4 separate regions of the Homo sapiens genome follow, and all the other regions are linked to region 3. The links come from fine-mapping of genetic effects on gene expression. A gene starts in region 3. Each other region holds a variant in brackets. All regions are shown on one strand. Distances are between the middles of the regions.

What was found. PIP is the estimated chance that this variant, and not a neighbour inherited with it, causes the effect. A credible set is the group of variants that fine-mapping cannot tell apart.
Region 1: its variant is the best candidate, but not a certain one, in a credible set for the expression of F2RL1 in sun-exposed skin (GTEx, PIP 0.55).
Region 2: its variant is the best candidate, but not a certain one, in a credible set for the expression of F2RL1 in esophagus mucosa (GTEx, PIP 0.90).
Region 4: its variant is the best candidate, but not a certain one, in a credible set for the expression of F2RL1 in CD4 T cells (CEDAR, PIP 0.55).

Annotation. Positions count from the first base shown.
Region 1 is chr5:76,792,825-76,800,969 of GRCh38, reverse strand. No RefSeq gene overlaps it. Among named protein-coding and RNA genes, the nearest start is that of F2RL1, 22 kb to the left of the region's middle. RefSeq lists an enhancer at 1,617-2,117. The variant C/T (reference allele first, on the strand shown) is at 3,481.
Region 2 is chr5:76,779,264-76,787,408 of GRCh38, reverse strand. LOC124901199 (small nucleolar RNA U13) reads right to left here and starts at 3,313; the gene lies at 3,210-3,313. RefSeq lists an enhancer at 7,648-8,145. The variant A/G (reference allele first, on the strand shown) is at 4,400.
Region 3 is chr5:76,814,722-76,822,866 of GRCh38, reverse strand. F2RL1 (F2R like trypsin receptor 1) reads right to left here and starts at 3,837. Exons shown (of 2, transcript NM_005242.6): 1 at 3,603-3,837. The coding sequence starts at 3,684. RefSeq lists enhancers at 2,886-3,503, 3,504-4,121, 7,654-8,145 and a silencer at 3,809-4,103.
Region 4 is chr5:76,838,596-76,846,740 of GRCh38, reverse strand. No RefSeq gene overlaps it. Among named protein-coding and RNA genes, the nearest start is that of S100Z, 7.3 kb to the left of the region's middle. The variant ACAAGTATGTAC/C (reference allele first, on the strand shown) is at 4,768.

The DNA.
Region 1 (8,145 bases), 22 kb after region 3:
CTTTCTTTCCTTTACTTATGTTGTATGTCACTCCCTCACATGCTGTGTATCTATTGGGGTTTTTTGGCTGCCTGTGGCCCCACTTGAATGTAAACTCCATGAAGTCAGGGGTTCTGTTCACAGCTGTATCCTCAGCTCCTTGGCCCCTGCCTGGTCCATGGTAGACACTCCATGAAGATTTACTGGATTACTTCTGATATTAAAAATACTTTATGCAGGAATGTTAGGGGTGTGACCATTTTTCCTGCTCCTTTCAATAACTAGGTCACTAGGAGTTAAAAAGAAAGGCAAAGGCAGCTGGGTGTGATGGCTCACGCCCGTAATCCCAGAACTTTGGGAGGCCAAGGCGGGCAGATCACCTGAGGTCAGGAGTTTGAGACCAGCCTGGCTAACAGGGTGAAACCCCGTTTCTACTAAAAATCCAAAAAATTAGCCGGGGGTGGTGGTGTGTGCCTCTAATCCCAGCTACTCGGGAGGCTGAGGCAGGAGAATCGCTTGAACCCAGGAAGTGGAGGTTGCAGTGAGCCGAGATCGCACCATTGCACTCCAGCTTGGGCAACAAGAGTGAAATTCCGTCTCAAAAAAAAAAAAAAAAGAAAGAAAGGCAAATGCATAAGTGTTTCCTAGAAGTTGTTGCCTGAAACACGGAAAACAGCTGCCTTTTTAATCTTACCAGAGGATCATGTCTAAAGGCATCTATTTGGGGACTGAGTGTGCATGTACAAGGAGTCCAGCGGCGCTTTACCTGGGTCTGCAATGCCCTAGCTGGTCTCTTCTGCCCATGGTCTTCTCATGCTCCCCCACCTACACCAACACTCTCACACTGACCTCCTTGTCCTCTGTGTCTCACTGCTTCTAGGGTCCTGATTGTCAATGGCCAACTTCTCTCTCCCTTCCCCCATCAGCTTTTTCTCTCTTCATCCTCAGCTCTTTCTCTAGACCCTTTAAAAGTCATTTATAAGCCTGCATGGCACATGTCTTTGTTTCCATCTGTGCCTGTCTGCCCCTCCTCACCAAACCTCTTAAGACCATGAAGCATTTGAAGTCAGGGGTTGTGTCTTATTCATCTTTATATCCTTAACCCGTAACACAGTACCTGGCACATTGTAGATGCTCAAAACCTGTTTGCTGAACAACTGAATGAATTCTCTATTGTTGACAAGCTGACTCTCCAGGACAGGCTGAGCTCATTCTTGGCAAAGATGTGCTGCAACATGCCCTCCAACCAGCATGCCCTGCCCCTCATTTCTACACACACAAGACCACCTTCAATAGTTAACTCTTAATTAAACAAGATATTTGGGCTCACTAAGCATTTATTGTCTATTTATAATGTTCTGGTACTGTACCCAGCAGTTGATAAAGATAAGTTGGTGCCTGATTTATTGGTCCAAGGTCCATCAGCTACCATTTCTTCATTAGGCCTCTCTCTTTTTTTTTTTTTTTTTTTTGAGACGGAGTCTGGCTCTGTCGCCCAGGCTGGAGTGCAGTGCAGTGGCGCGATCCCAGCTCACTGCAAGCTCCGCCTCCTGGGTTCACACCATTCTCCTGCCTCAGCCTCCAGAGTAGCTGGGACTACAGGAGTCCTCCACCATGCCCAGCTAATTTTTTGTATTTTTAGTGGAGACGGGGTTTCACCGTGTTAGCCAGGATGTTCTCGATCTCCTGACCTTGTGATCCGCCTGCCTCGGCCTCCCAAAGTGCTGGGATTACAGGCGTGAGCCACCGCGCCCAGCCGCCTAGGCCTCTCTTTATAACTCCAAACAATGCACACCTTCCCCCCATCAGAGGGTGCACAGCACGGAGGACTGGTTTCAGAGAGAGGAAGTAAAGCTCTGTGTGGGGTTAGGACAGTGGTATGTAAGGGCTGGGGTCAGACTGCCTGGTTCAAACCCAGTTTTCCTAATAACTTCCTTCATAAGGTTGTTGGGAAGATTAAATGAGATAATGTGTCCAAAGGACATAGATTATGACAGTGCCTGTAATCCCAGGACTTTGGGAGGATGAGGTAGGAAGATCGCTTGAGGCCAGGTAGGTGGGGGAGCATGAGAAGACAGTACCAACCTGGCCAACATAAGGAGACCCTATCTCTTTAAGTTAAAATTTTTTTTAATGAAAAAAACTTTTAAAAAGAACAACAACAAAAAAAGAAGGACATAAATTATGATCAACAAATGCTAGCTGTTATTATCGTCACAGATTAGGCCTTTGATCCTTTGATATGAGATTCTACTTTATGAAGTATTGTGGTGTATTTTCTTATTAGGTCATATATATAAATGATCTTTTTTTGTTGTTTTTTTAAAGAGACAGGGTTTCACTCTGTTGCTCAGGCTGGAGTGTAGTGGTGTGATTATAGCCCACTGCAACCTCGAACTCCTGGGCTCAAGCGATCCTCCCGCCTCAACCTCCTGAGTAGTTGGGACCAAGTCACATGCCACCACACCCGGCTGATTTTTTAAAAAAATTTTTGTAGAGACAGGGCCTTGCTATGTTGCTCTTGCTGGTCTCAAACTCCTGGACTCACCAAATCCTCCCGCCTCAGCCTCCCAAAGCTCTGGGATTACAAGCTTCAGCTGCTCCACCTGGCCATAAATTGTCTCTTAAATGACAGTTCAATTAACTAGAAGGCATGGATCATGAGCAAATAGTAGGCTTAGAATGAACAGGGAGGAATTGGGCTGGGCGCGGTGGCTCACGCCTGTAATCCCAGCACTTTGGGAGGCCGAGGCGGGCGGATCACGAGGTCAGGAGATCAAGAACATCCTGGCTAACACAGTGAAACCCCGTCTCTACTAAAAATACAAAAAATTAGCCGGGCGTGGTGGCGGGCGCCTGTAGTCCCAGCTACTCTGGAGGCTGAGGCAGGAGAATGGCGTGAACCTGGGAGGCGGAGCTTGCAGTGAGCCGAGATCACGCCGCTGCACTCCAGCCTGGGGGACAGAGCCAGACTCCATCTCAAAAAAAAAAAAAAAAAGAATGAACAGGGAGGAATTGAGTTGAACCAACTATATTAGTTAATCCATAATTTCTGAGACTGTATCTTTATTTTTATTTATTTACTTTTAAATTCTTTTTTGAGACAGAGTCTCGCTCTTTTCTGGAGTGCAATGGTGTGATCTCGGCTCACTGCAACCTCCACCTCCCGGGTTCAAGCGATTCTCTTGCCTCAGTCTCATGAGTAGCTGGGATTACAGGAGCCTGCCACCATGCCTGGCTAATTTTTTTGTGTTTTTAGTAGAGACAGGGTTTTACCATGTTGGCCAGGCTGGTCTCGAACTGCTGACCTCAGGTGATCTGCCTGCCTCGGCCTCCCAAAGTGCTGGGATTACAGGCGTGAGCCACTGTGCCTGGCCATGAGACTGTATCTTATTTTGCTATTTGGCAGATGTTTTTCTCAGAAGAAGATTAGAGAAGAGGACCAGCCATTTCATATATGATTCCATATATGTAAGTCATCATGTCTGATGGGGGATTTTA[C/T]TGGGCGTGGGAGTGTATAGAAACCCTTTGTCCCAAGGCTGCCATCCTTTTTCATAATCAGCTGGAATGATTAATTGAAAACAGCGCTACATAGAACATATGTCTACGTAAAACCCTGGCTCTGGTAGTCAATGCTGCCTCTGCTTTTCTCTAGCTGTACATTGGGTAAGTTATTTAACCTCTGTTTCCTTATTTGAGGGTAAAGATAATGATAACAGTCCTACCTCATAGGGCTATCATGAAAATTTAATAAGTGCCTAGCACACAGTTAAGGGCACAATATGCGGTTGCTTTTTTTTTTTTTTTGAGACGAAGTTTTGTTCACTCTTGTTGCCCAGGCTGGAGTGCAATGGTGCAATCTCGGCTCACTCCAACCTTCACCTCCAGGGTTCAAGTGATTCTCCTGCCTCAGCCTCCCGAGTAGCTGGGACTATAGGCGCCCGCCACCACTGCCAGCTAATTTTTGTATTTTTAGTAGAGACGGGGTTTCACCATGTTGGCTAGGCTGGTCTGGAACTTCTGACCTCAGATGATCCACCTGCCTCGGCCTCCCAAAGTGCTGGGATTACAGGTATGAGCCACCACGCCCGACCTGTGGTTGCTATTTTTATAATGACTTCTTTATACGTTTGCTGCAGCTCTGAGGCAGGTCTTTGAGTTGTACCACTAGTGGGTCGGTTTGGCTTTCTAGGCCAAAGAAGGAATTCTTTTGAGTGTCATATAGTTATGAAAGTACAGGCTGTGTGTGGTGGTTCACACCCATAGTCCCAGCACTTTGGGAGGCCAAGGCAGGAGGATTGCTTGAGCCGAGGAGCTCAAGACCAGCCTGGGCAAAATAGCAAGACCCCATATCTTAAAAAACAAAACAAAAGTACAGAAGCTTGCTCCTGCCTTGCCCAGAAGCCTCCTTTGACCTGAGAAAGTAACCAAGCATCTCCATCCACTACTCCACTGGGAGCAGCTGGGACACGAGAACATGCTTGCTGTTATTTTATTTGCATTTCTCCAATTAATCTGGCACCAGAATTGGAATTTTAGAGTTGCAAGAGATCTTGGAGCAGGGTCTCTGAGAGATGATAAAAGTACAGGTTTTAGAGTCAGACTGAAGCTAGGTTGAAAACCTGGCACTGAACTTTACCAGTGGGGTGACCTTGAGGCAAATGACTTAGACCTTCTAGCCTTTTACTTCCAAGTGGGCCAGGCCTCACCCCAGACCTCCTGAATCAGGATCTGAATTTTAACAAGATCCACCAGTGATGCATAGATACTTTAAAGTTTAAGAAGCTATCATCTAACCCTCAGTCTTCTTGTTGGTAAAATTGGGTGAGCAGTGGCCTAGCTTGGTGGCTCACGCCTGTAATCCCAGCACTTTGGGAGGCTGAGGTGGGCGGATCATGAGGTCAGGAGTTCAAGACCAGCCTGGCCAACATGGTGAAACTAAAAATATAAAAATACAAAAAGTACAAAAATTAGCCAGGCATGGTGGCAGTCGCCTATAATCCTAGCTACTCGGGAGTCTGAGGCAGGAGAATCACTTGAATCGGGGGGGCCCGGAGGTTGCAGTGAGCCGAGATCGCACCACTGCACTGCAGCCTGGGCAACAGAGCAAGACTCCATCTGAAAAAAAAAAAAAAAAGAAAAAGAAAAACCAGACAGGGTCTTGCTCTGTCACTCAGGCTGGAGTGCATGGGCATGATCATAGCTCACTGCAGTCTCAACCTCCTAGGCTCAAGTGATCCTCCCACCTCAGCCTCCCAAATAGCTGGTACTACAGGTGTATACCACCACACCTGGCTAATTAAAAAAATTTTTTTGCCGGGTGCCGTGGCTTACGCCTGTAATCCCAGCACTTTGGGAGGTTGAGATAGATCGCCTGAGGTCAGGAAGTGGAGACCAGCCTGACCAACATGGAGAAACTCTGTCTCTACTAGAAATACAAAAATTAGCCAGGCGTGGTGGAACATGCCTGTAATCCCAGCTACTCGGGAGGCTGAGGCAGGAGAATCACTTGAACCTGGGAGGCAGAGGTTGTGGTGAACCGAGATCGCGCCATTGCACTCCAGCCTGGGCAACAAGAGCAAAACTCCATCTAAAAAAAAAAAAAAAATTTTTTTTTTAGAGACAGGGTCTTGCTATGTTACTCAGGCTGGTCTCAAACTCCTGGGCTCAAGCAATCCTTCTGCCTCAGCCTCCAAAGGACTGGTGTTGGCCCGTGAAATGTGAGTAAAATTTACAGCATGCTAGTTTTAAGTGAAGACCTTAAAAGGCTTCCTGTTTTTCTGCTCACACCTTTGCATTCCTGTGGTCTTCCATGAGAAAAAATATCTCCCAGAAGCTACTGATCTGAGAAAAATGAGAAAACACGTGCAGCAGACCTAACCCAACTCATAGCCTGAACCCAGGCCCAGCCAAGCCCAGCGGGGCACTCAGAGACCCAGTGGAGCCATGGGCCCATGAAGGAGAAAATAAATGTTTGTTGTTGTAAACTGCCAAGATTTTGAATTTGGTTAGGCAGCACAAACTATTTCACTCTGAGTGATGAAATCATCCGAATCATCATCATCTCTGAATGATGAAATAGTTGATTTTTATTTCCTTCCCTATTATTTTCCGTATTTTCCAAGTATATTTGAATGAGTTTGTATTATTTTAAAGAAAAAAGATAAGCCGGGTGCTGTGGCTCATGGCTGTAATCCCAGCACTTTGGGAGGCTGAAGCCTGCGGATTGCTTGCGGTTGGGAGTTCAAGACCAGCCTGGCCAACATAGTGAAACCCTGTCTCTACTAAAAATACAAAAATTAGCCGGGCATGGTGGTGGGCACCTGTAATCCCAGCTACTTGGGAGGCTGAGGCAGGAGAATCATTTGAACCTGGGAAGTGGAGGTTTCAGTGAGCTGAGATCGCATCACTGCACTCCAACCTGGGCGACAGAGACTCCGTGGAAGGAAGGGAGGGAGGGAGGAAAGGAAGGAAGCAAGGAAGGGAGGGAGACAGGGAGGGAGGGATAAAGATAAATAAAAAAGAAGAAAGATACATAAAAAAGGAGGGCCTTCACTATTATGATACAAGATCAAACTCACCTGAACTTACAAAAAGAATGTAAGGCTGGGTGCCATTGCTCATGCCTATAATCCCAGCACTTTGGGAGGCCAAGGTAGGAGGATTGCTTGAGCCCAGGAGTTTGGGACCAGCCCAATCAACATAGTGAGACCCCCATCTCTACAAAAAATAGAAAAAATTAATCCCAGCTACTTGGCAGGCTGAGGTGGGAGGATCACTTGAACCCAGGAAGTTGAGGCTGCAGTGAGTCGTGGTTGTACCACTGCACTCCAGCCTGGCCAACAGAGTGAGACTCTGTCTCAAAAAAAAAAAAAAAAAAAGGAATTTATAAGATTGTTAAAACAACTTTGAATGGTGGCTCACACTTGTAATCCCAGCACTTTGGGAGGCCGAGGCAGGCAGATCACAAGGTCAGGAGATCAAGACCATCCTGGCTAACATGGTGAAAACCCATCTCTATTAAAAATACAAAAAATTAGCTGGGCATGGTGGCAAGCACCTGTAGTCCCAGCTACTTGGGAGGCTGAGAGAGGAGAATCGCTTGAATCCCGGAGGCGGAGGTTGCAGTGAGCCAAGATCGTGCCACTGCACTCCAGCCTGGGTGACAGAGTGAGACTCCGTCTCAAAAAAAATAAAAAATAAAAACAACTTTGAAAACACAAGTATGCTAATTTACATGTATTTTCTCTCATTTCCCTCTCTCTGCACAGTTAACAATGAAGTCAGCATTCACATTTCTATGGCTTTGAATATATGTCTAGTGTTTTGAAAGAGCAGCTATTTCTAAGATTGTGTTTTAGGATCTGATAATATTGTCAGAGGCAGTTAAACCAGAGCAACTCCATCTTGAATAGGGGCTGGGTAAAATGAGGCTGAAAACTGGGCTGCATTCCCAGATGGTTAAGGCATTCTAAGTCACAGGATGAGATATGAGGTCGGCACAAGATACAGGTCATAAAGACCTTGCTGATAAAACAGGTTGCAGTAAAGAAGCCGAAACCAGCCAGGCGCGGTGGCTCATGCCTGTAATCCCAGCACTTTGGGAGGCCAAGGAGAGCAGATTACCTGAGGCTGGGAGTTCGAGAGCAGCCTGGCCAACATGGAGAAACTCTGTCTCTACTAAAAATACAAAATTAGCCGGGCGTGGTGGCACATGCCTGTATTCCCAGCTACTCGGGAGGCTGAGGCAGGAGAATCGCTTGAACCTGGGAGGCGGAGGTTGTAGTGAGCCGGGATCACACCATTGCACTCCAGCCTGGGCAACAAGAGTGAAACAACATCTCAAAAAAAAAAAAAAAAAAAAAAAAAAGAAGCCAAAACCCACCAAAAATCAAGATGGCCACGAGAGTGACCTCTGGTCATCCTCACTGCTATGCTCCCACCAGTGCTGTGACAGCTTACAAATGCCATGCCAACATCAGGAAGTTACCCTACATGGTCTAAAAAGGAGAGGCATGAATAATCCACCCCTTGTTTAGCATATCATCAAGAAATAACCAGTCCAGTTACAGTGGCTCACACCTGTAATCTCAGCACTTTGGGAGGTCGAGACAGGCAGATCACCTGAGGTCGGGAGTTCAAGACCAGCCTGGCCAACATAGTGAA
Region 2 (8,145 bases), 35 kb after region 3:
AAATGAATTGGCTCATGTAGTTATGGAGGTTGAGAAATCCCAAGATCTGCAGTTGCCAAGCTGGAGACCCAGGGGAACAAATGATGTAAATTCCAGTCCAAGTCCAAGCCCAAAGGCAGAAGCCTAATGTTCCCAGCGCAAAAACAGTCAGCCAGAGAGAACAAATGTTGTTATATTCAGCCTTTTTGTTGTATTCAGGCCTTCAACGATTGAATGAGGCCCACAGACATGGGGGAGGGCAATTTGCTTAACTCAGTCAACCTATAGAAATGTTCATTTCATCCAGAAACACCCTCAGCGTTACACTCAGAATAATGTTTAACCAAATATCTGAGCATCCCGTGGTCCAGTCAAGTTGACACATAAAATGCACAGATAAAATCCAGACTTTTTTTTTTTCTTTTGAGACGGAGTCTCACTCTGTTGCCCAGGCTAGAGTGCAGTGGTGCGATCTTGGCTCACTGCAAGCTCTGCCTCCTGGGTTCATGCCATTCTCCTGCCTCAGCCTCCCAAGTAGCTGGGACTACAGGCACCAACCACCACGCCCGGCTAATTTTTTGTATTTTTAGTAGAGACGGGGTTTCATCGTGTTAGCCAGGATTGTCTCGATCTCCTGACCTCGTGATCCAACCGCCTCGGCCTCCCAAAGTGCTGGGATTACAGGCGTGAGCCACTGCACCCGGCCTTTTTTTTTTTTTTTTTTTTTTTTTTTTGAGATGAAGTTTCGCTCTTGTTGCCCAGGCTGGAGTGCAATGGCGCGATCTTGGCTCACTGCAACCTCCGCCTCCTAGGTTCAAGCGATTCTCCTGCCTCAGCCTCCCGAGTAGCTGGGATTACAGGCACCCGCCACCATGCCCGGCTAATTTTTGTATTTTTAGTAGAGACGGAGTTTCACCACGTTGGCCAGGCTGGTCTCGAACTCCTGACCTCAGGTGATCCGCCTGCTTCGGCCTCCCAAAGTGCTGGGATTATAGGCGTGAGCCACCACACCCGGCTAAAATCCAGACTTTTATGGCAGATGGAAAGGCAAGGGAAGCTGGTTAAAATGAAGATTCTTCGGATCCACCGGTCACCTGCTGAATCTTTGCCCCAAGAAATCTGTGTTTTTAACAAGTTTCTCAGGCCAGGTGCGATGGCTCATGCCTGTAATCCCAGCACTTTGGGAGGCTGAGGCAGGTGGATCACCTGAGGTCAGGAGTTCGAGACCAACCTAGTCAACATGACAAAACCGTGTCTTTACTAAAAATACAAAAACTAGCCAGGCTTGGTGGTGGGCACCTGTAATCCCAGCTACTCGGAAGGCTGAGGCAGGAGAATCGCTTGAACCCAGGAGGCAGAGGTTGCAGTGAGCTGAGACTGTGCCACTGCACTGCAGCCTGGCGACAGAGCGAGACTCTGTCTCAAAAAAAAAGGAGCGTCTCAAAGATTTCTGATTTACATTATAATAGAACTGCTGCTTGAGATTCTGGAAAGATTCATTAATTTCATAATATATGGACTTAACACTCAATCTGAAGGATGTTAGAATAACAAGAATAATCATGGGAAATGGTCGAGGTCTTTCTCCTGATGGTATACGGGCCATTTTCAAGTGGGATGGGAGTAGTTAATGTGTGATCTATGTGTTGATCTCATACAGGGCAGAAACCAATTTGAGCAAGTAATGCCCCAGGGCACACCCCCTTACTCACCCACACCTCAAAATAATTTTACCAACTGTTTGTTCAAAGTCCAAGTGACAAAGGGCAGTGCTGGTTGTCATTGTTCTTGGGTGAGTCATACTATACTGCTTTCTAATTCTTCTTCCTCCTCAAACCTGCTTTCTTCCCATCTTCTAGGGGTTGAGGATTGTTTTTTTTTTAATCACACTCCACAAATGTGAACCTTCTTCTTTTTTTTTTTTTTTTGAGACGGAGTCTTGCTCTGTCGCCCAGGTTGAAGTGCAGTGGCGTGATCTCTGCTCACTGCAAGCTCCGCTTCCCGGGTTCACGCCATTCTTCTGCCTCAGCCTCCCAAGTAGCTGGGACTACAGGCACCTGCCACCACGCCCGGCTAGTTTTTTGTATTTTTAGTAGAGATGGGGTTTCACCGTGTTAGCCAGAACGGTCTCGTTGTCCTGACCTCGTGATCCGCCCGCCTCGGCCTCCCAAAGTGCGGGGATTACAGGCTTGAGCCACCACACCTGGCTGAACCTCTTTTTTCTATCACACTACCAGGATCTCTCTTTCTCCTAACTGTGCATGTGTGTGTTTGCACACGTGTGTGTATGTGTGTTTCTAAATTTTGGACATTCTTTATGAAGTTCTATATGATGTAATTATTTTTTTGTGTGTATGCACATGAGGCTAGGTTTTAAAATACATACATTTATTTAATTTTTAAAATATATGTAAAATTATTGAAGTATCACATACCTACAAAAAGTGTACATGTCAGCCAGGTGCAGTGTCTCATGCCTTTAATCCCAGAACTTTGAAAGGCTGAAGCATGTGGATCACTTGAGGTCAGGAGTTCAAGACCAGCCTGGCCAACATGGCAAAACCCCGTCTCTACTAAAACTACAAAAATTTGCCAGGCATGGTGGTGCACGCCTGTAGTCCCAGCTACTCAAGAGTCTGAGGCACCAGAATCGCTTGAATCCGCAAAGCAGAGTTTGCGGTGAGCCAAGACTATGCCACTGCACTGCAGCCTGGATGATAGAGTGAGACTCTGTCTCAAGAAAAAAAAAAAGTGTACATATGATAAGTTTGCAGTTTCATGAATTTTTATAAAATTCATATCCATAGAACCAGAATTCAAATCAAGAATCAGAATGCTACCAGAATCCTGGAAGACTCCCTCGTGCTGTCTTCCAGTCACGAATTCCCACCAGGGTAATGTGAGCCAAAAATGAAATTATAAGCTCCTCCCCCAAATGACTAAACAGACCCCTTCCTCTCCACCAAGGGGATTTCAAACCCGGGTATGAGGGTCTCATATGCCTCATTATACTCTCCTCCCTTTGGAATTCAGGCACAGCTGACCAGCATTAACATTAAAACAGAGATCTTATGACTGACAAAGCAGATTCTTTGTAGCAATAAAATACCAAATTCCAACCTGATTCTAGTATAGCATCACACGACAGATAGCAGATCCTGAAAGGAATAAAAATCTTTTGCCCCAGAATATATTCCTTTGACATATTTTTATTTATTATTTTCCTTTTATGTCAGACAGGTAATGTGCCAACATCCTAACAAGGTTCGAGGGTGGCACATCTGACACACGCATGTGAACGCCCGATCATTATGCTCTTGAACTACAAAAGGATCGACTTTGACGTATTTTTAAATGGCTCTGCAAAACTGTATCTCGTGGGAGAAATTTACTTTCTATAGAGAATCCCCTTCCCTTTCCAAGTCTTTTTCCGATCCTGAAGAGACTGGCTGAGAGACCAGCACCTTTTAAAGTTCTAAATAGAAAACATTTGCCATCTCTTGCCTCTAAGGGTGGCCACCTAGGAGACTTTATCTACATAATAAGAACCTTGAAGTCTCCACAAGTCCTTATCTTAACCCAAACCCTCCTTTCTATTGATTCCAGGTCTCTAGGTAATAACTCTTTCAACCAATTGCCAATCAGAAAATCTTTGAACCTACCTGTCACCTAGAAGCACAGTTCCCGACTTGAGTTGTGCTGCCTTTCTAGATTGAACCAATGTATGCCTCACATGTATTGATTGATGTCTTATGTTTCCCTAAAACATACAAAACTAAGCTGTAACTGAACCACCTCGGACACATTTCTCAGGACCTCTTGAGAGTGTCTCTTGGGCCATGGTCACTCATATTCGGCTCAGAGTAAACCTCTTTAAATATTTTACAGAGTTTGACTCTTTTCGTCAACAGTAACAACTGTTCTAACTTCTAGAATAATAGATTAGTTTTTAGCTGGCACAGCAGCTCACACCTGTAATCCCAGCATTTGGGGAGGTTGAGGTAGAAGGACTCCCTGAGCCCAGGAGTTTGAGACCAGCCTGGGCAACACAGTGAGATCTCATCTCCACAAAAAATTAAATAAATTAGTAGGGTGTGGTTGTGTGTGACTGTAGTCCCAGCTACTTGGGAGGCTGAGGCAGGAGGATCACTTGAGCCCAGGAATGCAAGGCTGCAGTGAGCTAAGATCACACCATTGCACTCCAGCCTGGGTGATAGAGTGGGACCCTGTCTCACTCAAGAACTTTAAAACTGGATTAGTTTTGTCTATTTTTATTTTTTATCTTTATTTTTGAGAGATGGGGTCTCGCTCTGTCACCCAGGCTGGAGTGCAGCAGCGTGACCTCAGCTCACTGCACCCTCCACCTCCCAGGTTCAAGCCATTCTCCTGCCTCAGCCTTCTGAGTAGCTGGATTACAGGC[A/G]TCTGCCACCATGCCTGGCTAACATGGTGAGACAGGGTTTCACCACGTTGGCCAGGCTAATCTCGAACTCCCACCCTCACGTGATCCACCTGCCTCAGCCTCCCAAAGCGTTGGGATTACAGGCATGAGCCACCACGCCCGGCCCAATTTTGTCTATTGTTAAAGTTTTGACCTTTACATTACACAAGTAGAATCGTAAACTACGTACTCTTTTTTTGTCTGGCTTCTTTTGGTCCTCACATTGTGAGATTCATTCCGGTTGTGGTTTATAGTTGTAGCTTATTCATTCTCATTGCTGTATAACCTTTCATTATGTGGAAATACCATCATTTTTTTTTACCAGGACCCTGAACCCAGGCCACCATTGTGAAAAGAGAAAGCACAGCTACATGGTTACAAGGTCAGTCTCCCAAGGAAATGACTAACCAGTTTGCTGGGCTGTCTTGAACAGCAGGCATATAGGGGTCCTAGGTCCACATTCTATCCTAAGGTACTCCTCATCTTGACAGAACAATACAGAAAGATACACAAAGCACACCAGATTCACTACAGTTTAAGATTAGCCTCAGTAATCCTTTTTTCCATTAATCAAAACTTTACAGAGGAGATAAACAGTGATTTTTGTTTTTGTTTTTTATTGTTGTTTGTTTTTTGAGCTGGAGTCTCGCTCTGCTGCCCAGGCTGGAGTGCAATGGCATGATCTTGGTTCACTGCAACCTCTGCCTCCCGGGTTCAAGCGATTCTCCTGCCTCATCCTCCCGAGTAGCTGGGACTACAGGCACTTGCCACCATGCCCGGCTAATTTTTTGTATTTTTAGTAGAGACAGGGTTTCACCGTGTTGCCCAGGCTGGTGTCGAACTCCTGAACTCAGGCGATCTGCCCGCCTCGGCCTCCCAAAGTGCTGGATTACAGGTGTGAGCCACTACGCCTGGGATAAACAGTGATTTTTAGCATTCATTTAACCCGTTTGCGGGGGGAGAGAGAGAGAGAGAGAGAGAGAGAAAGAGCGCATTGCCTGAGGCAGGGTGGGAAAAGTGAAGAGCTCAGGGAGACCAGAGTAAGACCCGCCCATTACTCAAAAGTTCAGATGGCTGCTTGCCTGTCAAGAAGGAATCTTTTCCAGCAGTCCTGTCAGCTCTCAAGTTTCCCCTTTTAGGAAAGAAAAAGCTCCCCATGTCCCACAATCCTGTACATGCCAATCCTGACACCCACAGTCATCAGCAAAGAGTGCAAAGCAGATTATTCCATAGAGAGTAGCAGTTAACATCCTGTAGTGCCAAACCCATATTTAGCCGAAAGGGACTTTACTGAGAGGGGCCTCTAACCCTCCTAAGTTGGGCCTTGAACCCAATGTTGGTCAAGTGTCCTTGCCTCTTATTGAGAGGAGCCTTTAACCCTCTTTGTCTTAGGAGAGACTCTAACTCCTCTAAGTTGGGCCTCTCACCCAATCCCATTTTTCACCCAGGTACCCCACCAATTTATCCAAAGTCAACCAATCTCTTTCCTTTGAGTGAGGGGATTTCTTCAGTATCATCCCTTCAGGGTTTGCCAGAAAGATGTCACCGGACCCTACCACTTACCCAAAGTTAGCCTTTGGGTCAGGGGTTTACCGCACTATAGTCCCTTCTGTGGTTGCCAAAAAGATGTTACAAGAAGGGGGGGTCCTGATCCATACCCCAAGAGCGGGTTCTTGGATTTTGCACAAGAAAGAATTCAGAGCAGGTCCCTAGAGAAAAGTGAAAGCAAGTTTATTAGCAAAGTAGAGTAACCAAAGAATGGCTACTCCACAGACAGAGCGGCCCCAAGGGCTGCTGGTTGCCCATTTTTATGGTTATTTCTTGATGATATGCTAAACAAGGGGTGGATTATTCATGCCTCCCCTTTTTTAGACCCTATAGGGTAACTTCCTGACGTTGCCATGGCATTTGTAAACTGTCATGGTGCTAATGGGAGTGTAGCAGTAAGGACGATCATCACCATCTTGGTTTTGGTGGGTTTTGGCCGGCTTCCTTACTGCAACCTGTTTTATCAGCAAAGTCTTTATGACCTGTATCTTGTGCTGGTCTCCTATCTCATCCTGTGACTTAGAATGCCTAACTGGGAATGCAGCCCAGTAGGACTCAGCCTTATTTTACCCAGCCCCTACTGAAGATGGAGTTGCTCTAGTTCAAAGGCCTCTAACAATCATAGATCACTGGAACTTCAAACTCCTGGCCTCAGGTGATCCTTCCGTGGTGGCCTCCCAAAGCACTGGGATTACGAGTGTAGGCCGTCATGACCAGCCCTATCCATATCTTTTTTTTTTTTTTTTTTTGAAACAGAGTTTCACTCTGTTGCCCAGGCTGGAGTGTAGTGGCACAATCTCAGCTCAATGCAGCCTCAACCTCCTGGGTTCAAGCAATTCCCCCACCTCATTCTCCAGAGTAGCTGGGACTATAGTCACTATAGTCACCTGCTACCATGCCCAGCTAATTTTTTTTTTTTTTTTTTTAGATGGAGTCTCGCTCTGTCACCAGGCTAGAGTACAATGGTGCCATCTCAGCTCACTGCAACATCCGACGCCCTGGTTCAAGGGATTCTCCTGCTTCAACCTGCCAAGTAGCTGGGATTACAGGCACACACCACCATGCCCAGCTAATTTTTGTATTTTTAGTAGAGACGGGGTTTCACCATGTTGGCCAGGATGGTCTCGATCTCCTGACCTTGTGATCTGCCTTCCTTGGCCTCCCAAAGTGCTGGGATTACAGGCGTGACCCACTGCACCCAGCCATGCCCAGCTAATTTATTATTTTTTGTAGATACGGGATCTCCCTGTGTTGCCCAGGCTGGTCTTTAACTCCTGGGCTCAAGTAGTCCTCCTGCCTCGGCCTCCCAAAGTGCTGGGATTACAATGAGCAACCACACCTGGTCCCATATTTTTGTTTGTTGTTTTTGAGAGAGGATCTTACTTCATCACCCTGGTTGGAGTGTCGTGATGTGATCATGGCTCAGTGTAGCCTCAACCTCCCTGGCTCAAGTGATTCTCCTGCCTCAGCCTCCTGAGTAGCTGGGACTACAGGTGCACACTACCATGCCCAGCTAACTTATGCATTTTTTGTAGAGTCAGAGTTTTGCTGTGTTGCCCAAGCTGGTCTCCAACTCCTGAGCTCAAGCGATCCACCTGCCTCAGCCTCCAAAAGTGTTAGGATTACAGGCATAAGCCACTGAGCCCAGCCCCCATCCTATTTTTAATGGACATTTGAGTGTCCAATGTTTGGCTCTTGCAAACAGTGTGAAGCATAGTTTTTATACTGAGTCCTGGTTTTAAGAGGGAGTGTTAAGTATTCAAGTTAAAAAAAAAAACAACAAAGACTGCTTGTGGCAAATAATAGAAACAAATGAACATTCCACAGATACCTTTGTTCACCCTAAAAATGGCTCCCAGGGTTGGAAGCCCATATGGGAAAGAGGAAAAAAGAAAGAGAGCCCAGAGCCGAGAGTGATTTACAGTTCAGTCTGCCGCCCCTGTTTGCTTCTCCAAGGCAACCCATTGCCCCTCCTTCTAATTTGGCCTAAATCAGTAGCTTTTCAAAACACCTGCTGGTTATCCAAACTGGCCCGTTTAAGGGCTCTGTGATGGATTCATTGTTATGCGGTCAACCAACCAAGATGGGGGAACCCGGGAGGCAGAGCTTGCAGTGAGCCGAAATCGCGCCACTGCACTCCAGCCTGGGCGACAGAGCGAGACTCTGTCTCAAAATAAATA
Region 3 (8,145 bases):
TTTACTTGCATTAGTTCTCTTCCTTTCACCCTCTCTTCTCTATGATCCCCTCACCCCAAATGTCCTTTTTTGCTCCCAATCTTTGGGAGCACAGACTGAAAAATAAAGGTTTCAATTGTGGGGTGCCCCTCCCTAGCTAAACTTTTAGTACATTTTCAGAAGTGTTCTTTCAGAATGAACTGTTTTCTTCAACACTTGCCAAGCTAATAAAACCATAAGAAAGTCAAATACAGATTTACTAAAACATCATCTATCAAGGTTATTTAGTAACTACAAAGCAAGCAAAAGGATCAAATTTAAAGTCCTATCTTCCAGTTCATTGCAGTGTTCTGTCATATTACAAAACTTTGGCCAGGCACGGTGGCTCATGCCTATAATCCCAGCACTTTGGGAGGCTGAGGCAGGTGGATCACTTGAGGTCAGGAGTTCAAGATCAGCCTGGCCAACGTGGCGAAACCCCGTTTATACCAAAAACACAAAAATTAGTTGGATGTGGTGGTGTGCGCCTGTAGTCCCAGCTACTCCAGAGGCTGAGGCATGAGAATCACTTAAACCTGGGAGGCAGAGGTTGCAGTGAGCCGAGATCGTGCCACTGCACTACAGCCTGGGCAACAGAGTGAGATTCTATCTCAGGGGGAAAAAAAAAATGGAAATACCACATGTCTATCAACAAAGGACTAATTTTAAAATTGATGCATCCTTCTGTAACATTTTGGAGTCATTAAAAATGTTTTATATGTATTGACATGATACTGATGTGCTTATATAATCCCATACTTGCACAAACATATTTTCTGTATTTGTGAATACATATTTTGTGCATGGATGTAATAAAGAGTGGGAAAATATATAAGCCGAAATATTAGCGGTGGCTACTTTGGTACTGAAGTTCAGGGTGATTTAATTAAATGTTTCCTTTTTTTGTTTTGGCTCATTTTTCCCTCGAGTGATCACATATTGTTTTTATAATTTAAAAAACAATTATAGGTAGGGCGCAGTAGCTCATGCCTGTAATCCCAGCACTTTGGGAGGCTGAAGGTGGGTGGATCACCTGAGGTCAGGAGTTTGAGATCAGCCTGACCAATATGGTGAAACCCTGTCTCTACTAAAAATACAAAAATTAGCTGGGGGTGGTGGTGCGTGCCTGTCGTCCCAGCTACTCGGGAGGCTGCAGCAGGAGACTTCCTTGAGCCCGGGAGAGGTGGAGGTTGCAATGAGCCAAAATTGCACCACTGCACTCAAGCCTGGGCAACCGAATGAGAGTCAAAAAAAAAAAAAACCCAAAAAACCAAAAAAACAAAAAAAAACCACCAAACCAATTATAAAGAAAACAGAAGTTCCAGTCTCCAAAAGATAAATGGAATGACCTAGGCCTGTAACATGGTGGAAAAAAATAAGTAAGTGGCAGAGAGAAGCTGACTGAAATGAACACCACATGGACCAGCCAGGGTACTCTGGGCAAGACTCCTCACTTCATTCATTTGCTATTTACTGAGGTCCCGTAGGTGATGAGACTATGCTAGACGTGATGGAAAGGATGGTAGGGCCCCCTGCCTCCAGGAGTTAACGATGCAGTGAGGACACATATTAAGCATGTTTACCCAAATAATTATCAATTACTATTGTAAAGGGAAAGAGAAGCCCTGATTTCCAAGTGTTTTCCTTGCCTTGCCTCCTCAATTCAGTGTCCTTCACCTGTACCCTGAGAAGGTTGTGATCTCGGCTGAGTTCGTTTCTATGAGGCAGTCTTTTGGAGTGAGGCTTTGGGAAGAAAATCAAACCCCAAATCGGCCCTGCAGCCACCTGAGGGGCACGCAGAAGGACCGGCTAAAAAGCGAGTGAGCAAAGACCCACCCTGAGGGCAGAAAAGCTTTGCTAACACTGTATTTCTTATTAAAATCAATTTAGTTTTAAGGTGGGAGGAAAGCTCCATCTGCCTAAATCAATTGTCAGTGTTACTTCACTAACCCTTTGGGAAAGTTACTTTGCAAGGGAATAAAAGTATGGTGGGGGGAGGATGAGGAACAAGGTGCAATATTAAGTGGCTATAGTTAACAAGTAACCTGATTTTTCCTTATTGTTAAATCAAGTTCGCCTTATAATCCAGGGATCTCCCAATCCCCCAAGAGTAGTAAACAAGAACAAGACAAATAATCGGGGCATGCTTCCTACAGGGATCTCTGAATCATAAAGATGTTGAATCAGCTATACCAACATGTATTTTTTTAAAGTTTGCACATACTAACCTTTGCTCCTGAATTTTAAGTTTCCAACTTTAAAGGACATAGAGGAGAGGTGTCCATTACAGTTTTCAATACTTCCTGGAACTAAATGCCTTTATTCTGATGCTGATTAAGAAAAAAAAATATACCAGCGGTGCACAGTTTTCAAGCTTACACCATTAACACCCTTTTCCCTAACTGCAGAGGGAAAAGAATCACATTCTTCCATCTAATTCCAACCCACTGTGACTTGCTCTTTTACTTCGTCTTTATGAAGAGGAGGATAAAAGTGAGAAATGCGCATTTCTGAGGGAAATTAAAAGCTCCCTTTGCTACCCAGGCTGCCCCAAACAGAGGGGCCTCGGTTAGGATCACAGTGGCGCGATCGCAGGTCAAACATCCCCCACGGCCACAGCGAGGCCTGCTGGGCCCGGAAGAACACACTCCCAGCAATACAAGTTCGAGCACACCCGGAGCAGCACATCCAAGGAACGCGACGGCCGGGCGCAAGTGCTGCTCTGTTCCCAGGCCAGCCAGCCTCTGGCCTGCAGACCTGGGTGGCAGCCAGTGGCCGCTCCGGGTGGCACACTAGGAAAGTCCCGGAACCCCAGGCCCAGAGGGTCAACTGGTCAAATATAAGGCAGGGTCCAAAAAGTTCCGCTCGTAAATCCTCGTGGCGCCCAACGGGCCTGAGCGCTCATTACCACCAGAACCCATCAGGGACCGGCCCTGACTTTCATACCCCGGGCCTTCCACTGTGGGTGCCAGGAGCAGCGGGACCCGGGTGGGTCTCGAACGCAGGGGCCAGAACCCGAAGAAAGGCTTCCAGCAGTTGGAGAGGGACGCAAAAAACAACCTAGAAGGCTCCCGGGCCGCGGGTTCCCACCCACTCCGCCCTGCCCTGCGCAATCAGCTCGCTAACCCCACCGGCCCCGCGGGGCCAGCGGAGGAAGTCTCCGGAGTTGGCAAAAAGCTCTTAATGACTTAGTGTTTACAAAGCAACCAAGCCCGGGGAGGGGACTAGGTCCTCTGCGTACCCTTTAGACACAGCTACTCCTTCCTTCCCTCCCTTTCCCCGAACCCACGCTGGGGCCTGGAGGTGCCCAGCATGACAGCCTCTACGGGAAGTGGGGTCTTTGGGGAAATCTCTGCCTCTGCCCGGCTCCGCTGACTTCAGCTGCTCCCGCATGTCCCACCTGGGTGCCTCCTTGGCGCAGAGACCTCACATCAAAGCCACCAAGGGGAGGCTAAGGGATTCGTAGAGATGGGTGCCGGCAGCAGAACAGCCTTCGCACACCTGCCCGGATCCCACCGTCTGCCCAGCGTGCCCAGGACCCCAGCTCCTCAGAGATAAGAGCCCTCCTTGGCCAGGTTTCTCACCTTGGATGGTGCCACTGCAGGAGAGAGAGGCTGCTAGCAGGATGGCGGCCCCCAGCAGCCACGCCGCGCTGGGGCTCCGCATCCTCCTGGAAGCCCCGACGCCGGGCGCGCGGGGAATCCGCCGCCGCCGATTCGAAACTCAGAGCTCCACTGGACGCACCGAGAGAAAGTCAGCCTCTCACCTGCCCCGAATCGGAGCCTCTGCTGCGCGCCTCCCCAGGGCGGGTTAGGTTTCAGGGAAACCGAAGGAGCAGCGTACTCACCTGCGGGAGGCCACGCCCCGGGACCGGAACGCGCGCCCTGGTCCCGCCCCCGGCCCCCTTCCCTGCGCAGCTGCGCCCTCCGCTTCCCGGACTCGCGCCAGGTCCCTTAGACTGCGGGAGCCGCCTGCGGGCGGGGTTGAGCGCATGAGGTGTCTGCTTTGGAATGCAAATAGCAGGAGCGCTGGGACCACGGGTTAATCCCTGCCTAGGCTATACCGCGAACTACCTTTAATCTTTACTTACTCCTAGAGAAGCGGGTCGTCGGTCTCCCTTGCCTTTCCTGACTGTGGGAAAGCCACGATTCGTACTCACTGCAATTGTGGTTGGTAACTGATACAGACAGGGCTTCCCGGTGCGGTGGACCCTGCAGGAGGAGGGATGCGTTTTTTATTGTAGAGGCAGGTGGGCAACTGCGGACATCACGAAAGCGGTGGGGAGCACAAGAGGCGGGGCGGGAAAGAAGACATGGAATGGCTACTTTCAGCGCCAAGTGCCAAAGCTTTAGAGAATTATCTTGCTTAATCCCCATAACAACCAGCGCAATAAGTATGATTATTCTTCCCATTTTACAGACGAGGAAAGTGAGCTTAGAAAGACCAGATAAATTGGCCAGAGTTACACGACTTATAAACACAGTGTATAAATGTTTATCACATTTCAACTCCAGTATAAGACTATCACTGTCTTCTATTCATCGCTGCACTATAAATGCGTCCACCAGGGCTCCTCTGCATTGGGATCCCATAGGCTAAATAAATACAAAAGCAGATAGAAGGGGTGGGAGAAGAGAAGTGTGGGGTTGGGGATGAGTGCATGAGGGTTGGCATCATATTGGTAATGTCTTACTTTTTGTTTTTGAGACGGAGTCTCGCTCTGTCTCCCAGGCTGGAGTGCAGTGGCGTGATCTCGGCTCACTGCAAACTTTGTCTCCTGGGTTCAAGCAATTCTCTGGCCGCAGCCTCCCGAGTAGCTGGAGTTACAGGCGTGCACCACATCTGGCTAATTTTTGTATTTTTAGTAGAGGCGGGGTTTCACCATGTTGGTCTGGCTAGTCTCGAACTCCTGACCTCGTGATCAGCCCACCTCCGCCTCCCAAAGTGCTGCGATTACAGGCGTGAGCCACCGCACCCAGCATGTCTTACTTTTTATTTGCTTTTTAAAAGATTGAATAAAACAAAGTCTACTGTTACCCATTTAAACTATTGGTACCAGAAGAGCACAGAAGAGAGACATAGGTATTTTCAAATATTTAAAGGATTCGCTTGTAGAAGAGGATTTAGATGTGTTTTGAGTTGCTCCAGAGAGCAAAAATTGGTGGAAGCCACAGTGGGGTTTAATTTCAGCTCAATGTATAAAGAAATTTTCTTTATTTTTTATTTTAATTTCTATTAGAAAATAGAAGTGGGGTCTCCCTATCTTGTCCAGTCTGGTCTGGAACTCCTGGCTTCATGTGATCCTCCCCACTCAGCCTCCCAAAGTGCTGGGATTACAGGAATGAGCCACCACACCCGGACAGGCTTCTCCCCTTGTTGACATCTGTGTGATCCCAAGTTTACTTATCCTCTCTAAGCTTTCTTATAATATATATATATATACACACACACGTGGTTTAAAGGTTTATAGGTGTCTGTCTGAGGATAAAATAGTGACTAGTGACTGGGTTTGATACATGGTAGAAGCTCAATAAATATTTTTTGTTTATTTCCTTTCTCTGAGGAGTCTTCATACTCCACCTGCACCCCAGCTCTCACCTCAGCCCATGCCCACTTTTCCTCCCAGGAAAAGCTGACTTCTAGAAGCAGAACAGGAACCTTTGACATCCTGAACAGCGGACAGCTCTCCTGATAGGGATCAGGCCATTCCTGAAGGTCCCTCCCCAGGGGAGATAACTGATTCCTAAGATGTCCCTTCAAACTTTTCAAGCATCCATTTCCTCATCTGTAGCTTATTAATATTACATCTATCATCTGGGAATGATACTAGTACCTCTCTCGTAGGGTGGTTGTGAGGATTCACTTTGCTAAATGTCCATAAAGCACTTCTTAGTACCGTTTCTGGTATATAGTAAGCACCTAAGAAATGGGAACTGCTATAGAATGACTGCCTTTAAGGTGGAATCTTCCTCTTTCAGAGAACAATACATCAGGGTCCAGCTGCTTTCGATTTAAATTTTCACTGTATTTTATGGGAATATGCCTTGAATCATCACAATTTCCAATAAAAGACTTTATTGAACAATGCTATGAGTTAATTATCTCAAAAATGTGGTTTCTTCCCCCAGCCTGACTAAATGAACTAAACTCACTTGAGTCAGTTTGCAGGTGTTTTTCTGTAATTTTGGGAGTATAGTATTTGTTTTTCAGGTGTTGATGACTCCTTCGCCCTGAAGGGATTGGAGTATTGTATGGCTGTGTGGAACAGTACAAAGAAATGACCACAGGCAACTAGACTGCCTGGCTTCCAGAGATTAGGAACCTTCTGCAATCTTCCACCACCTACAATTCCAAAGAGGAGTTTAGACATTGAGGGAAAAGGTATTTCATTCAAATAATTTGTCAAACTCTTCCTGGAGAAACAAAGTCCCAAGTTACTGGGTCCTAATCAAATATAGTTGGAGAAAGTTACACTCATTTATTCACTGATTCATTGAGCACTCACTCTGGACAAGGTTAGTAATGAAATCCACATGGTAAGTCCTATGGTCCTCTTTCAGTCCTTTCTCAGTTACTCAGCCTAGCTGTAGAATTGGACACGATTGATTTCTCCCTCTTTCTGGAATGCTCTATTCACTTGGCTTCCAGGCCCACTCTTCTCTTGATTCTCCATCTGTCGCATTAGCAACTCAGAAGTGGGTTCTTTGCTAGTTCCCACCTACCCTCCTGACCACTATATTCTGGAGTGAGTGCCCCTAGCTTAGTCTTTGGACTTCTTTTCTTTTTTTTTTTTTTGAGACAGGATTTTACTCTGCTGCCCAGGCTGGAGTGCAGTGGCACGATCATGGCTCACTGCAGCCTCAACCTCCCAGGCTTAAGCAATCCTCTCACCTCAGGCCCTGAGTAGCTGGGACTACAGGCACACACCACCAGGCCTGGCTAATACTTTTTTATTTCTTGTAGAGACAGGTTCTCACTATGTTGCCCAGGCTGGTCTTGAACACCTGGGCTCAAGCAATCCTCCCACCTTGGATTCCCAAACTGTTGGGATTACAGGCATGAGCCACTGCGCCCAGCAGACTTCTTTTCTTCTCAAAGTATACACTCATTCCTTTGGTGACCTCATTCACTCCCATGGTTTTAAATACGATCTATATGTTGACAGCTCCCAAATTTCTATTTCTACTCCTGATTTCCCCAATCCAGACATATAGCATATTCATCTAGCTATTCAAAATCCCCCCTTGGATGTTTCTACAGGCATATCAAGCATAAGTCCAAAACTAACTTCCTGATTCATTACACCTCCACTGCCCTTTTCACAGTCTTCCCCCTCTCCTTAAATTACAACTCCATCCTTCCAATTGCTCAAATCAAGTCTTGGAGTCAGGCTAGGTGCAGTGGCTCATGCTTATAATCCCAGAAATTTGGGAGGCCAAGGCAGAAGGATTGGTTGAGCCTAGGAGTTTGAGATCAGCCTGGGCAATATATTGAGACCCTATTTCTACAAAAAAATTGCCCAGGGGTGGTTGTATGCACCTATAGTCCCAGCTATGCAGGTGGCTGGGCAGAGGGATCACTTAAGCCCAGGAGCTCCAGGCTGCAGTGAGCTGTGATTGTGCCACTGCACTCTAGCCTGAGCAACCAAGTGAGACCCTGTCTCTAAAAAATTAAAATTATTTGGCCAGGCACACTGGCTCACACCTGTAATCCCAGCACTTTGGGAAGCCAAGGCAGGCAGATCACTTGAGGTCAGGAGTTCGAGACCAGCCTGGCCAACATGGTGAAACCCCATCTCTACTAAAAATTAGCCAGACGTGGTGGCACAGGCTTATAATCCCAGCTACTCCGGAGGCTGAGGCAGGACAATCGCTTGAGTCCTGGAGGCGGAGGTTGCAGTGACCAGAGATTGTGCCACTGCACTCCAGCCTGGGCAACAGAGCAAGACTCTGTCTCAAAAAAAAAAAAAATTATAAAATGAAAATTAGGCTGGGTACAGTGGCTCATGCCTGTAATCCTAGCACTTTGGGAGGCCGAGGCAGGCAGATCACCTGAGATCAGGAGTTTGAGACCAGCCTGGCCAACATGGCCAAACCCTGTCTCTACTAAAAATACAAAAGAATTTAG
Region 4 (8,145 bases), 24 kb before region 3:
TTTTAGGCTGGGCACCGTGGCCTATGCCTCTAATGCCAGCACTTTGGGAGAGCGAGGTAGGTGGATCACTTGAGGTCAGGAGTTCAAGACCAGCCTGGCCAACATGGTGAAACCCCGTCTCTACTAAAAATACAAAAATTAGCCAGGTGTGGTAGCGGAAACCTGTAATCCCAGCTACTAGGGAAGCTGAGGCAGGAGAATTACTTGAACTCAGGAGGCAGAGGCTGCAGTGAACCAAGATCATACCACTGCACTCCAGCCTGGGCAACAGAGCGAGATTCTGTCTCAAAAAAAAAAACACAGTTTTTAAAAAGATTAAAAAAAAAGAATTTCAGTTTTAATGGACAGAAATGGTCACTAGAATAAACACCATCATTTCCCTCCCTGTGCTGCAATTTTTTAAGCCATAAATTCTGATAAATCTGTTATATTTTTAACAAAGTCTCCCATTTACACAAATCTCTGGTTAAAGAAAAAAGTCTGACTTCCACTGGTAAGAACTAGACACAGTTCCCCTGCAAGAGCCCAGGTGGCCTCTGAAAGAGTTCACAACATAAGGCTTGGCTAAAACTGCTTTCTCGGGATTAGGTAATTGAGTCTACCCGATGGTACATAGAAGCTATAATTAAACGCTTTCCATGGGTTTGCCATTCACCCCAGGCTACATGGTGGAGCTGAGGTGAGGAACTCAGACCTGAGCCAGATCCAGCAGTGTTGAGAGTTAATCCCTCATATGCAGGTGAGCTGGCTAGGGCCCAGAGCTGGGACTCCAGGCTCCTGCTGTAGTGGCTGCTGCCATGCCCTCATGTTCTCCAAAAAAGAATGATAGAAAACTCATCAGAGCAAAGGATGTTCCACACGGCACAGAAGTTTTCTGCAGCCCACCTAGAAGAATAGCTTAGGTTTCCTCTCAGAGCTAATACAAAGAGAAATGGGACCAACTTCCCGCAAGGCCGTACCTTTTGAGGGTCACTGCCTTGGTGGTGAGGAATAGCAGGGGGAAAATATGCCTAAAATACAAAGTAAATTGCCGAGACCAGCTCAGTCAAGGAGACCCTAACCCAGTGGCACTAGAGGAATTAAAGACACACACACAGAAATATAGAGGTGTGAAGTGGGAAATCAGGGGTCTCACAGCCTTCAGAGCTGAGAGCCCCGAACAGAGATTTACCCACGTATTTATTAACAGCAAGCCAGTCATTAACATTGTTTCTATAGATATTCGATTAACTAAAAGTATCCCTTATGGGAAATGGGATTAACTAAAAGTATCCCTTATGGGACACGAAGGGATGGGCTGAAATAAAGGGGTGGGTCTGGCTAGTTATCTGCAGCAGGAGCATGTCCTTAAGGCACTGATCGCTCAGGCTATTGTTTGTGGTTTAAGAACGCCTTTAAGCAGTTTTCCGCCCTGGGAGGGCCAGGTGTTCCTTGCACTCATTCCAGTAAACTCACAACCTTCCATCGTGGGCGTTATGGCCAGCATGAACATGTCACAGTGCTGCAGAGATTTTGTTTATGGCCAGTTTTGGAGCCAGTTTATGGCCAGATTTTGGGGGACCTGTTCCCAACAGTAAATAAAGGAAGAAAGCAAAGCTCTATTTCTTCCTAGATGCTTATGGTCCTGCATTATCATTACACTCAAAATTTGTGAAGTTCAGACTGGCAAATAAAAGACCATGAAAATGTGGTGTTTACAACACTCTAGATAAACAGACACACATTTTTGGCAAGTGTGTAACTGGTGCAACACCTTAGGAGGGCAACTTACCACAATCAAAATTACATGTATCCTTTGACCCAGAAGTTCCACTTCTTATTTTTTTATTTTTATTTTTGGACAGAGTCTCTCTCTGTTGCCCAGGCTGGAGTGCAGTGGTGCAATCACAGCTCACTACAGCCTTTAACTCCTGGGCTCAAGCGATCGTCCTGCCTCAGCCTCCCAAGTAGCTGAGACAATATGTTTACAGCACCTCCCCTGGCTACTTTTGTTGTTGTTATTGTGCGATAGGGTCTTGCCACATTGCCCAGGCTGGCCTTGAACTCCTGGGCTCAAGAGATCCTTCCACCTTCACTTATAGAAATACAATACATGCAAAGACACACTGTCTCCCTCTCTGCTGAATGACTCTCATTGCCTTTCTTGCCTCCGCATTCCCCTGCTCCCTTTCACAATTAAAATTGCTGTAAGGGATTGTCACTGTCATTGTGTGGACTTCCTTCCTTCTAATTCTTTCTTGAACACACTATTCTGGCTTCCTTTCCCCATCACATCACTGAGAGGGTGGTCTTGCCAAGGTCACCAACATTCTCCAAGGGCAAGCTCAGGTAGTCACTCCTCTGTTCATATCTCACTTGGCTTCTTAGTAATTTTCACCATGATTGATTACTCTGTCCTTTATGCCCTTGGCTTTCCTGACAGCATATTTGCTGGACTTTCTTCTTGCCATAGTGGCTGGTCCTTCTCAGTGTCTCTTACTGGCCCTTCCTCTGCTCAAAAGAGTCTACATGCTGAAGGCCTCTGTCCAGGGCCCTCTTTTCTTCATCTATATTCTCTCCACTAGGTGTCAGAGACATTTGAACCAGAGCAACCCTTGAATAGGAGCTGGGTAAAATAAGGCTGAACACTACTGGGCTGCATTCCCAGACAGGCACTCTAAGTCACAAGATGAGGTAGGAGGTCAGCACAAGATACAGGTCATGGCCTGGTGTGGTGGCTCACACCTGTAATCCCAGCACTCTGGGAGGCCGAGGCGGGTGGATCACCTGAGGTCAGGAGTTCGAGACCAGCCTGACCAACATGGCAAAACCCCGTCTCTACTAAAAATACAAAAAAATTGCCGGGTGTGGTGATGCATGCCTGTAATTCCAGCTACTCAGGAGGCTGAGGCAGGAGAATGGCTTGAACCAGGAGGTGGAGGTTGCAGTGAGCCGAAATCATGCCACTGCACTCCAGCCTGGGCAAAAAGAACGAAACTCCATCTCAAAAAAAAAAAAAAAAGATACAGGTCATAAAGACCTTACTGATAAAACAGTTTGCAGTGAAGAAGCCGGCTAAAACCCACCAAAACCGGATGGCCACGAGAGTGACCTCTGGTTATCCTCACCGCTACACACCCACGAGCACCATGACAGTTTACAAATGCCATGGCAACATCAGGAAGTTACCCTATATGGTCTAAAATGGGGAGGCATGAACAATCCACCCCTTGTTTAACATATCATCAAGAAATAACCATAAAAATGGGCAACCACCAGCTATGGGGGCTGCTGTCTGCAGAGTAGCCATTCTTTTATTCCTTCACTTTCCTAATCAACTTGCTTTCACTTTATCGACTCGCCCTGAGTTCTTTCTTGAGTGAGATCCAAGAAAACTCTCTTGGGATCTGGATCTGGACCCCTTTCTAGTAACATAGGTAACCTCACCAAGTTCTTTTTTTTTTTTTTTCTCGCGCTGTTGCCCAGGCTGGAGTGCAGTGGCACGATCTCAGCTCACTGAAACCTCTGCCTCCTGGGTTCAAGCAATCCTCCCACCTCAGCCTCCTGAGTAACACTGGGACCACAAGCGCATGCCACCACACTGGGCTAATTATTTTTATCTTTTGTAGAGATAGGGTTTTGCCACGTAGCCCAGGCTGATCTCAAACTCTTGAGCTCACATGATCCTCCCACCTCAGCCTCCCAAAGTGCTAGGATTACAGGTGTAAGCCACCGCACCCAACCTCCTACTCAACAATGCTGCTTGGATGTCTAACAGGCATCTCAATCTCAAGATGCCATGGTCAAAACAGAACTCTTAACTTTCAACCTCCAAACATGCTCACTCCTAATTATTTCACCATTATCCATCAAGCAGAAACTCTAGGCACAAGCTTTGATTCCTCTTCTTTTCACATCTGTTGACTTTAGGCTTCTTCTCTCCCTCTCTGTTAGCACCACCCTAATTCAAGCCAACATCACCTCTTGCTTGGATTACTCCAAATTGTTCTTGCTTTCTCATCTTGTCCTTCTATAATCCCTATTCCACATAATAGCCAGTGATTTTTTTCTTTTTTTGAGAGGGAGTCTCGCTCTGTCACCCAGGCTGGAGTGCAGTGGCATGATCTCAGCTTACTGCAACCTCCGCCTCCCGGGTTCAAGCGATTCTCCTGCCTCAGCCTCTTGAGTAGCTGGGATTACAGGTGCACACCACCACGCCCAGCTAATTTTTGTATTTTTAGTAGAGACGGGCTTTCACCATGTTGATCAGGCAGGTCTTGAACTCCTGACCTCGTGATCCGCCTGCCTTGGCCTCCCAAAGTGCTGGGATTAAAGGCGTGAGCCACCGCGCCCGGCCACCAGTGATTTTTTAAATGGGCAGTAAAACAAACCTATGGCATCCCATGTAGAAAGAAAATCAAGCTCCTTACTCCCTTACAGTTCCCTTCAGTTATCAAGCTCTTGCCTCTCTCCAGCCTACTTGCTCATACTCTTCCTTCCCTTACTCATTCCCATAAAGCCCTTGCTTGGGATCCTCCCATGGCTGGCTCTCCTGCCCTTTACATTGCCACTTAAATTTCACCTCCTTAGAAACCTTCCCTGATCTCCCAATATAAAATACTCTTAGCATTTACTACTATTGGATATTTTGTTTTGTTTTCAGTCTTTCTCCAATCAGAAAGTAAACTCCATGAGAATAGAGTTCTTGTCTATTTTGTTCTCCACAATATTCCTTACTGCCTAGAAGATGACTTGGCACATAGTGCGTGGTGGAAGAATATTGAATTA[ACAAGTATGTAC/C]AGATTTCCACTCAAATATTATTTATATAGCAATATAAGTATAGCATAAGCTGGATTCCATAAATTATGGTATATGTGCACATGGAGATAGCCATTTAAAATAATGAGGTCAATCTGTAAATGCTAACATGGCAATCATATCCAAGATGTGTTCACGTATATAATGCAGAAACCAGCCTCCCATGTAATCCCCAGTGATCCTCGCCTCCTGGTGTTTATGCTAGGTAGTCTTCTCCCAGATTGAATTGGAGCTAGCTTGTCTGACCAAGCAATTGGAGCTAGCATGGTGGAGGTGATGGTGTGTGACCTCTGAAGCTAAGTAATGAAAGGCATTGTGGCTTTCCCCTTGTTCTCATGGATCACTCATTTTGGGGAACACCAATCTTCATGTTATGAGGTCAGTCCAACAGCCCTGTGAAGAGGCCCACGTGGAGGGGAACTGAAGCTTTCTGCCACCAACATGCCAGCCCTGTGGAGGATCCTCCAGCCCCCGTCACATCTTCAGCTAGCAGCAGCTCCAGCCAGTATCTTACCTGGTACCTCATGAGATCCTAAGCCAGAACCATTGGGCTAAACTGCTCCTGAATTCATAACCCACAGAAACTGTGAAAGTTAGTAAATGTTTATGACTGTCTTAAGACACTAAATTTTGAGGTAATTTATGTGTAATTTAACTAATACATGGTGTAACTCCTTTTATTTTTAAAAAGCATGTATACATGTTTATACATGCATAAAAACATCTCAAAGAATATACAGAGGGCGTATAAACGGGTTCCCATGTGGTGGGTAGGGAGGGTGTTCATTTCTCATTATATACTTATACTCTCAGATTTACTTATTTATTTTAGCTACTCAATAGGTATGGGTTTTTTAATTTGCATTTTTCTAATGACTAAGGCTAAGCATCTTTTATGTTTCAATATGCCTATTTGCCATCTATTCTATTCTATTCAGTTCTTCTTCTTTTTATTTATTTTTCATTTTTTAGAGATGAGGTCTCACTATGTTCCTCAGGGTGGGGTGTAGTAGCTACTCACTAGTGTGATCATGGCTTCGTGGCTCACTGCAGCCTTGAACTGCTGGGCTCAAGCAATGGTGTAAACAAAGCAGTGGTTAGGGGGGTAAGCCATAGTAGTGGCCCTTCTGGAAACTTCTTGTCCTTCACATTTACTTTGACTTTCTGCCTGTCTCAGGATCTAGCTCTGGAATAAGCTATGCTTTAAAGGCTTTTGAGAAGCCCATATACTGGAGGGTTAGGTTTCTGGGGTTTGTGTTTTTTTTTTAAATATTGATGTATTCCACTGAGAGAACATCAACCCCTCAACTGGATAGCTGTTAAGGTGGAAATCCTAATTTAATTATTTGCATTTAATAATGCAGTAATGTTGCAATGAATGTTTGTGGAATTGTGAACCCTGAATATTTGAGACAGGTCTCAGTTAATTTAGAAAGTTTATTTTGCTAAGGTTGAGGACACATGCCCGTGACACAGCCTCTGGAGGTCCTGACGACATGTGCCCAAGGTGGTGTGAAAGGAAAATATCTTGGGCCCCCAAAATCACTGCGCTAAAAGTTAAAAGTCAAACTGGAAACTGCACAGGGCGAACCTGCCTCCCGTTCTATTCAAAGTCAACCTCCACTCACTGAGATAAATGCATATCTGATTGCCTTCTTTGGAAAGGAAGAAACTCAAAAGAATGCAAGAGAGTTTGTCTCTCACCTATCTGTGACCTGGAAGTCCCTTCCCTGCTTTTCTGGTCTTTGCTTCAAGTTATCCCGCCTTTCCAGACCAAACCAATGTACATTTTACATATATTGATGTTTCATGTCTCCCTAAAATGTGTAAAACCAAGCTGTGCCCTGATCACCTTGGGCACATGTCGTCAGAATTTCCTGAGGCAGTGTCACAGGCATGCGTCAACCTTGGCAAAATAAACTTTCTAAATTAACTGAGAACTGTCTCAAATGTTTAGGGTTCACAGTGCTCAGAGCAGTTTGGTTTTACACATTTTAGAGACACATGAGACATCAATCAACGTATGTAAGATGAACATTGGTTCGGTCTGGAAAGGCAGGACAACTTGAAGCGGGGAGGGGGCTTCCAGGTCATAGGTAGATGAGAGACAAACAGTTGCATTCTTTCGAGTTTCTGATTAGCCTCTAGAAAGGAGGCAATCAGATATGCTTTTTTTTTTTTTTTTTTTTTTTTGAGATGGAGTCTTGCTCTGTCACCCAGGCTGGAGTACAGTGGCGCAATCTCAGCTCACTGCAACTTCCGCCTCCTGGGTTCAAGCGATGTTCCTGCCTCAGCCTCCCAAGTAGCTGGGACTACAGGCACCCAGCAGCATGCCCGGCTAATTTTTTTTGTATTTTTAGTAGAGACGGAGTTTCACCTTGTTGGCCAGGCTGGTCTCGAACTCCTGACCAGGATGGTCTCGATCTCTTGACCTCGTGATCCGCCCACCTCGGCCTGCCAAAATGCTGGGATTACAGGTATGAGCCACCGCACCCGGCCCAGATATGCATTTGTCTCAGTGAGCAGAGGGGTAACTTTGAATAGGAGAGGCAGGTTTGCCCTAAGCGGTTCCCAGCTTGACTTTTCCCATTAGCTTAGTGATTTTGGGGCCACAGGATTTATTTTCCTTTCACAGGATGAAGGATTGAACCACTCACACTGCTGCTGGGTTCTTGATGGGCCCGCAGGCTTGGGCTGTGGTTTTTACCGGAGGTTGTCTGTAACTCTGGTCAGGCTTAATTTCTCACCAATAAAGACAAAGGCTGGGAAACAGTCCATAGATTGACCCACTGGTAGAGGCAAGAGCAGTTCATACTCAAATCACGGAATATTTCAAACTGTCCCTCCAGAGAGGCATTCCAAGGTTGGTCTGAGTCACTCTAATTGTTGACATTTAAGTGGGACAATCATCTCAGTGAAGTTCCAAGGCTTGAATAAAATGTAGGGCTAGATCCCTGATCACTAAGGGCTTGGTTTTTGTCTTCAGAACTGGGGGTCAGGAAAGGACTGGCCACATCAGAAACTTCTTTTTGAGAAGACATCTAAACACCCAAGCAAAAACTTATCATTTTAATCAAGATCCGGAGGACAGCAAGTACTACCTTTGATTCTGCAATAAATTATAGTCCTCTCAGGGGCCTCCAAAGGGTTAATGTTTCAGGAACAAAGTTGTAATCACTAAACTATGCATACTGATGAGATTATAGCCCTAAAGTTTATGAAACCTTGATAACCAGGAAATTAATTACAGGTTTGAAACTCCTGCTGCAAACCACTGAGGTGACACGTTAGGAAAAAGCCCATAAAACAACTCCAGCCGAGTCAGTTTAGCACTGGCCTTTGTCCTGA